Linked DNA regions of Homo sapiens. The protein of the gene in region 1 purifies or fractionates together with the protein of each later gene. This does not show direct contact. Each region holds a gene or a part of one and is shown on either strand. Other genes may lie near its edges.

Region 1 (3,500 bases):
GACAATAAATTAAAATTACAATGAAATAATAAAAATGAAATTTTTAAAAAGAAATAAAAAGTGAGAATTTAACCTGACATTGACACTACTCTCCATAAGTCCTGGCTCAAAAACATTAAGTTGGTAGAATCTCAACCTTATTTTAATCAATTCTTCTAATTCAATTATTTCTCATCATCCCCTTTCCTGGCACTACCTCCTTTCTAAATATCACCACCTGTGATATGGTCTCTCTCAAATCATTCATGTAAATTCAATACTCCTATTCCACTCAAAACCTACTATATTAAATACTAGGGATAGAAAGATGAATAAAGCACTGACCCCATCCTTCATTAATACATTTTTCAATTTATTTAATGCATTAAACTTACATTATAATGTCCTCTACAGAGCCTAAGTATATAATTCATTTTCATCTATAGCTAATGCTCATCAAAAACTCAGTACAAATTTTTTTCTTTATAACCTTTCTTCTTAATTTTTACAAATCCATTGAACATAGGCATATGGGTATCTTAGAATGTCAATACTATTAATATAGAGGAAAATAAAAAAAAAGGCATGCAGGACCTTTATAAAAGACTAGTTTTGTTTTTACATTTGCTTTCAAAAACAAGATCCCATTCTTTTTTAGTCTATATTTTGCCCTTTAATTAATCTTAGATAATCACCTGAATTCTTTTACGTACAAAGCAGCCAATCCTAAAGATTCTTGACAATGGATAAATCTCAAATTCATGGAATCACTCATTCAGTGTTAAGTACTTACCATGTGCTAGAGAAATATGAAAGAAAGCTATTATTAAGTAGGAAATAAGACTCTAACCTAGTATTAAACATACTGTGCTTAAATAAGCTGATAGGAGCTCAAATTCAGGTAAATTATAATTAAATTCTGCAGTCTACATATAGTAGCATCCAGATAATTAAGATTATTTGATCTAACACTCTTTAAATTCATACTTTAAATGACACAAATTGTAGAAGCTCAGAAATTTCAAGAAAAAAAAAATGACACAAATTCCTTATGGGTCCCAGGTTTCAATTCTGAAATGAGGTATGCTCAAGTTTGCATTTCTGAGGATTACTAAGCAGAAACACTGAGTATCAATACCCACCTGTGTCATGACAATGAATACTGCAATGCCAGTGGATGCAGGCGTAGAATCCCACTGGAGAGGTCTGCTTTGAGACTTCTTCATTCTGACTATTGTCCAACCCATGCATAGACTCAAAAGTAAGTATAACATCTGAATTTGGGAAGCGATGTCAAAAACTAATGGGACATGAAAACCAACGTCAACCAAGTTTTCACAATATAAAAAATTTAGTGCTTTTTGCATTGAGAACATCTTTTTTTTTTTTTAAGAAAAACCACAAAAAGCCATTTTCAAAGAGAAGCTAACGAAATTCATTAAGAGATATTCGCAGGTAATAATTCTAAAGATTTAAAAATTGCCATAAATTTTGTAATATATTTATTAAAATAGTTAAAACAGCAGCAATACTATTTAAAAATACATATATATGCCCATACCATATGTCCATTAAGTCCAACCTTAACTCTTTTCGTTTCCCATTTTTCTTAGCTTTTCTAACTACATAATCCTGTTCTCTATAACTCACTGCTTATTAAAGCAAATTCTAAATACGATTTCTGCAATATGGAGAATACTAGTACCTTCATTTCTGGGTGAATTTTTTTTGATGGCTGAACTATAATGTGAAGAGTATTTTCTAAAACTATTAACAAGAAACAATACAATGAAATGCATAGCTCCCATAACATCCAAACATTGGCTTTACTTTCAGAATCCTGAAGACAAATGAGAAGCTCCATGCATTAGTGTGATGTGCCACCAGGTGGCCATCACCTACACTGCAGGGGAAGCCTGCTACTTCAAACAGAAAAGATGTATCAAAACCACCTGTATCCAGGTTAACACTACAAGAAAACAACAGAAATCTATAAATGCTTCAAGTTTCATATATATATTTATTTTATGAGGTAGCATTTAATGATTTTTAAGAAAACTTATCACTTTTCTTCACAGCATATTTTGATGTGAGTTTTAGGCTTTGGGTCAGAAATAGAAAAGAGTCAGTTATAACAGAGAGTGGAATTATAATAGGAAGAAAAACTTCAGCTTTGAGGTAAGAAAATTTAGGTCTGAGTCTAGTCTCTACCACTCAATAGCTGACTGACATGTGGAAGTATGTTTCACATCACTGAGCCCAGATCCTTTATCTGCAAAATAAGGATATGCAGACCCCTTTTCTATTGAGGATAAGATGAGAGAATGTATATAAATATACCTAAAAACAATGAAAAGGCAGAGTGTGGAGACTCATGCCTGTAATTCCAGGACTTTGGGAGGCCAGGGTGGGTGGATCCCTCAAGCCCAAGAGTATAAGGCCAGCCTGGGCAACATAGTGAGACCCCATCTACAGAAAAGGAAATTTAAAAATCAGCCAGGCATGATGGTATGTGCCTGTAATCCCAGCTACTGGGAAGGCCTGAGGCAGGAGGATCACCTGAGCCTAGGAGTTTGAGGCTGCAGTGAGCCGTGACTGTGCCACTGCACTCCAGCCTGGGCTACGGAGTAAGAACCCTGTCTCAAACAAACAAACAAAAAAACAACGAGGAGCTGTACACATTACCTATTATTAAGAAGAAACTAAGTAAGACATATGGGAACTTAAACTGTAATCCTGTTCTCAGTCAAGCTGATTTCTAAACAATTTTCGACAGAAAATTTATACTATGACAAGAAATAAAAAAAAAGCAGATAGCGAGTGTAAAAGCTTTTTAAAAAATGCTCAGAAAGATACTCACATTCTGCCAAACTTCCCATAAATGGTACCCCTATTCCATCTTTGGAGTAACTGAGGAATTGAAGAAGAGTAGTGTAAATTACAAATGTGAAAAAAATTGTTTATAATCAAAGCAAGCATAATTTTGGTGGACTAATTAGGATTAATTAGATGTAATGATGAACACAGTTTTAGTGGTTTTGAGTTACCTGGAGAAATGAATGTAATTAGCTAAAGCTGAACCAGCTTGTAACAGCAATGCAGTTGTCAGAACCTTTAAAATCATGTGCATGGGTCCGCCTTTCTTAATAGCCTGCCACAATGATTGAGCATAAATGCAAGCAATCACAAAGTACACTAGGACTAGGAGGAAAAAGAACTCATGTAACCCTGTGAAGAGAAGAAAGGGAGTTTGCTTCAGTAAAACAAAGCCAGTTATCGTATTGGGCTGCTTTCAAATCTCCCTGTCAATATATTTCTAGAACTTGTTTTTTAACTGGAGTCATAGCATTCACCTTTGTAAGAGAAAAAAAATTATTAAAACTTAAACAATTTTGTACCTTGGGGCAAAATTTTAACTACAAGAAAGCAGATTAAACCAAACTAGTTAAGGTCAATCTGTAAGAAAGCATAATGGTCAGGGGAACCCAAAGACTCATCATAAAATCACAGTTTTGTTTGAA
Region 2 (3,273 bases), on another chromosome or scaffold:
GAGAATCAATGGGAACCACTGAAGAACAGCCCCTTCTATCTTAATGTCTCCTGAGAGTGTCAGGTTACCATGGCACCTGTTTTGATGCCCAAGACAGCAAGAAAAATGATGTAACCTAATGTACTACATTTAAGAAGAAATAAAGTATGTGGTATATTTTGGAAACATTTTTATACATCTTAGCTAAAATGTTTAAAAGGTTATTGCTTAAATAAGTCAGCTTCATTTATCTGAACATTTAAATTATGCAGAGAAGCTCATCTCCCAGCTTTGGCAAATAAGCAAGATGTTTCTGTGCTAGTTTTCAAGCATGAATCATCTTCATAGATCACATCAGCGCATTGATCACACCAAAAGAAGTGTCTGGGTAACCACTCCTTTGCTTTGATTTCTAGAGTCAAACGCTAACAGATTTGAAGGACATGAGAAAGCCTGAATACCATCCTCTCCAAACAGTGGGCCCCTCAATCTGAACCTTGAAGCTGAAATACGATTCCTACTTCATGTACAAAACACATTTTTTATTTTGCAAAGCCAAAGCCATGCTTTAAAAATACAGACTTTGAATCTTAAGACATTATTTTGCATTTTAAAGAGAGATATAGTTAAAGCTTACAAGAACAATATAAAGTTTCAAATAACACCATTGTCAGGTTTAAACATGTTGGTATGTTTACATGACAGTTCTTTCCTTTTTTTTTTTTTTTTTTTTTGAGATGGAGTCTCGCTTTGTCACCCAGGCTGGAGTGCAATGGCACGATCTCGGCTCACTGCAACCTCTGCCTCCTGGGTTCAAGCGATTCTCTTGCCTCAGCCTCCCAAGTAGCTGGGATTACAGGCACCCGCCACCACGCCTGGCAAATTTTTGTATTTTTAGTAGAGAGGGGTTTCGCCATGTTGGCCAGGCTGGTCTCAAACTCCTGACCTCAAGTGATCCACCCATCTTAGCTTCCCAAAATGCTGGGATTACAGGTGTGAGCCACCATGCCTAGCCCATGACAGTACCTTCCTAACATGTGTTTGTATTTTTGTAACACAAGTTGCTATTTTTCTAATGTTCATATATTTACATAGCCCTTTAAAAACATGAGTTCCATGAACTTTCTATGTCATTGAAGAGAGCTGTTAAAATCTGATTCCATCACAAATTTCAGACCCCTTTAAAATAATTATCAGAAGCCAGCATAATTCCAGCTGTCCCCTAGCTAATCTGCAGCTCCTCATAACAAAAGTCTTCAGCCACACATTGCTCTTCAACCACATTAAAGAAACGGAACAAAACTTCTTTCTACATTGTCTCAGTAAAGTTGCTTTCTTTAAAAAAAAAAAAAAAGTATTCCATTTATTTAAAAAATTAAAAACATCTAACATTTTAAACTGTACAATAAACCCCAACTTCATTACGATTCATTAATCAAATCTCTCTTGAGTCCATTTTGTTTGCTGGAACTCCGCTAGGCACTCAGAGCACAGCTGTGAGCAAGATTATTCTAGATCCTGTCTTCATAGCACTCTCAGCTTAATGGACGTTTAGACAAGAGACACTCACGACAGAGAACAGCTCCCAGGGAAATCAAAGCAAACCGACAGTTTCCTAATGGCCCACTACAACCTGAGCTGCTTTATCCAATTGGTGACAATTGTCACCAACACCTGTTCTGCCATTGTCCCCTTCTTCCCGAAGCACTTCCAGGTTGTGAACACTTGAGCTTGTCTTTCCACCTCCATTTTACAGGGTCAGGCTTGTTGACTGTATCAAAGGGAAATGAGAGGAAACACTAGCCGGCCAATCCTGCTGCTTATAACCAGCAACAATAAACATTCTGATAGATAAAAATGTTTAAACATTTGCCTAAAATGAGTGATGTGTTGGCTTCCATTTTTTTTTCTGTTTTAGTTTTTCAAACCACTGCCATCATTTTGTGCTGTAACCAAAAGACACTGTGATCTGTGACCGCTTCATGAATATTTCTGAAAATGTTTACATTTGTCAACAATTCACTTTAATTCAGCATTTCCCAAAGGCTGTTTTGTGAAATGCCAGGCGGATATATACCCTAGAGCTACAAAACATTCCTTGCAAAGTGCTGGAAAATGCTACCTATCAGAGACCACCCCACCCTGAAGAGATCACACAGCCCATGAGCACGTTAAGTCCCGCAGGAGAGAGGCTTGCTTGATTTTGCTTAATTCCCACATTTTCCATGCATACCTGGCCATAGACTTTTTTTTGCATAACATCTATGAGTATGTTTCACACATGCCTTAGGGAGACTCAGCTTTCTATCACATAGTGAAGGACGACGCATTGTCGTTATCTGCGGTCTCACTGGTCTGCCGAGAAATGTTTTCTGAGTACCTCCCGGCACAGGAGAAGCCTGAGGACTTGTACTTCCTTCTCACACACCACAGGTCCTTCAAGATCTTCAGAAAGTAGTTTCTGAACTTCTGCCCAATAAAAGCGTAGAGCACAGGGTTCAGGCAGCAGTGCAGGAAAGCCAGGACTTCTGTGACAGTTTTCGTATAGCCAATTAGCTTTTCGCTCTGGCAGGATCGGTTCATTTTACCCAAATTTGCAGCCGTCACAAGCAGGACCATGTTATGAGGAATCTGACAAGCCAGAAACACAAGCACCACAGCTATGATTACACGGATGGCTTTGTGCCTTTTAGAATTCTGAGCTTGCACCAAGGTTTTGACAATGAACGTGTAACAAAATATCATGAACATCAAAGGGATAAAGAAACCAAAGAGTAGCTCAAGCCCCAACATCAGCAGCTTCCACCTGATGGGCTCCGAGACAGTCTGGTACTTGGGTTCACAGACATCGCTGCCTTGGGTGTTGTATTTTTGGTTGAAGACAAAAGTTGAGCTGGAGATGATGACTGACAGCCCCCACACAACAAGGCAGATGATTTTGCTGCGCGGTAGTGTTCTGGATCGGAGCCGGAATGACTTAGTCGCCTGTACAATGGCGATGTACCGGTCCATGCTAATGCAAGTCAGGAGCAGCATCCCGCAGTTAAAGTTGATGGCATAGATGCCTTTTAGCAACTTGCACGTGGCATTGCTGAAAACCCACGCACCGGTGGCATGACTCACTGCCCAGAATGGGAGAGTAAGAACAAAGAGGATGTCTGCAATGGCCATGTTCAAGAGATAGACGTCTGTCATAGACCTGGCCTTCTTATAAAAAGCAAAGGTGATCACCACCAGAATATTCCCCAGGAGGCCAAAGACACAGATCAAGGAGTAGGCAATCGGTACAAATAG

The links.
Region 2: the proteins of GPR180 (region 1) and CCR6 purify together in Homo sapiens (co-immunoprecipitation; one large-scale study listed by IntAct). This does not show direct contact.

What each region holds. Positions count from the first base shown.
Region 1 is NC_000013.11:94,618,857-94,622,356, reverse strand, and holds part of GPR180 (integral membrane protein GPR180 precursor), read right to left. Parts: intron 3,208-3,500; coding exon 3,027-3,207; intron 2,890-3,026; coding exon 2,840-2,889; intron 1,280-2,839; coding exon 1,122-1,279; intron 1-1,121.
Region 2 is NC_000006.12:167,136,369-167,139,641, reverse strand, and holds the end of CCR6 (C-C chemokine receptor type 6), read right to left. Parts: coding exon 2,287-3,273; 3' UTR 501-2,286; downstream 1-500. UniProt on the Homo sapiens protein: Receptor for the C-C type chemokine CCL20. Binds to CCL20 and subsequently transduces a signal by increasing the intracellular calcium ion levels.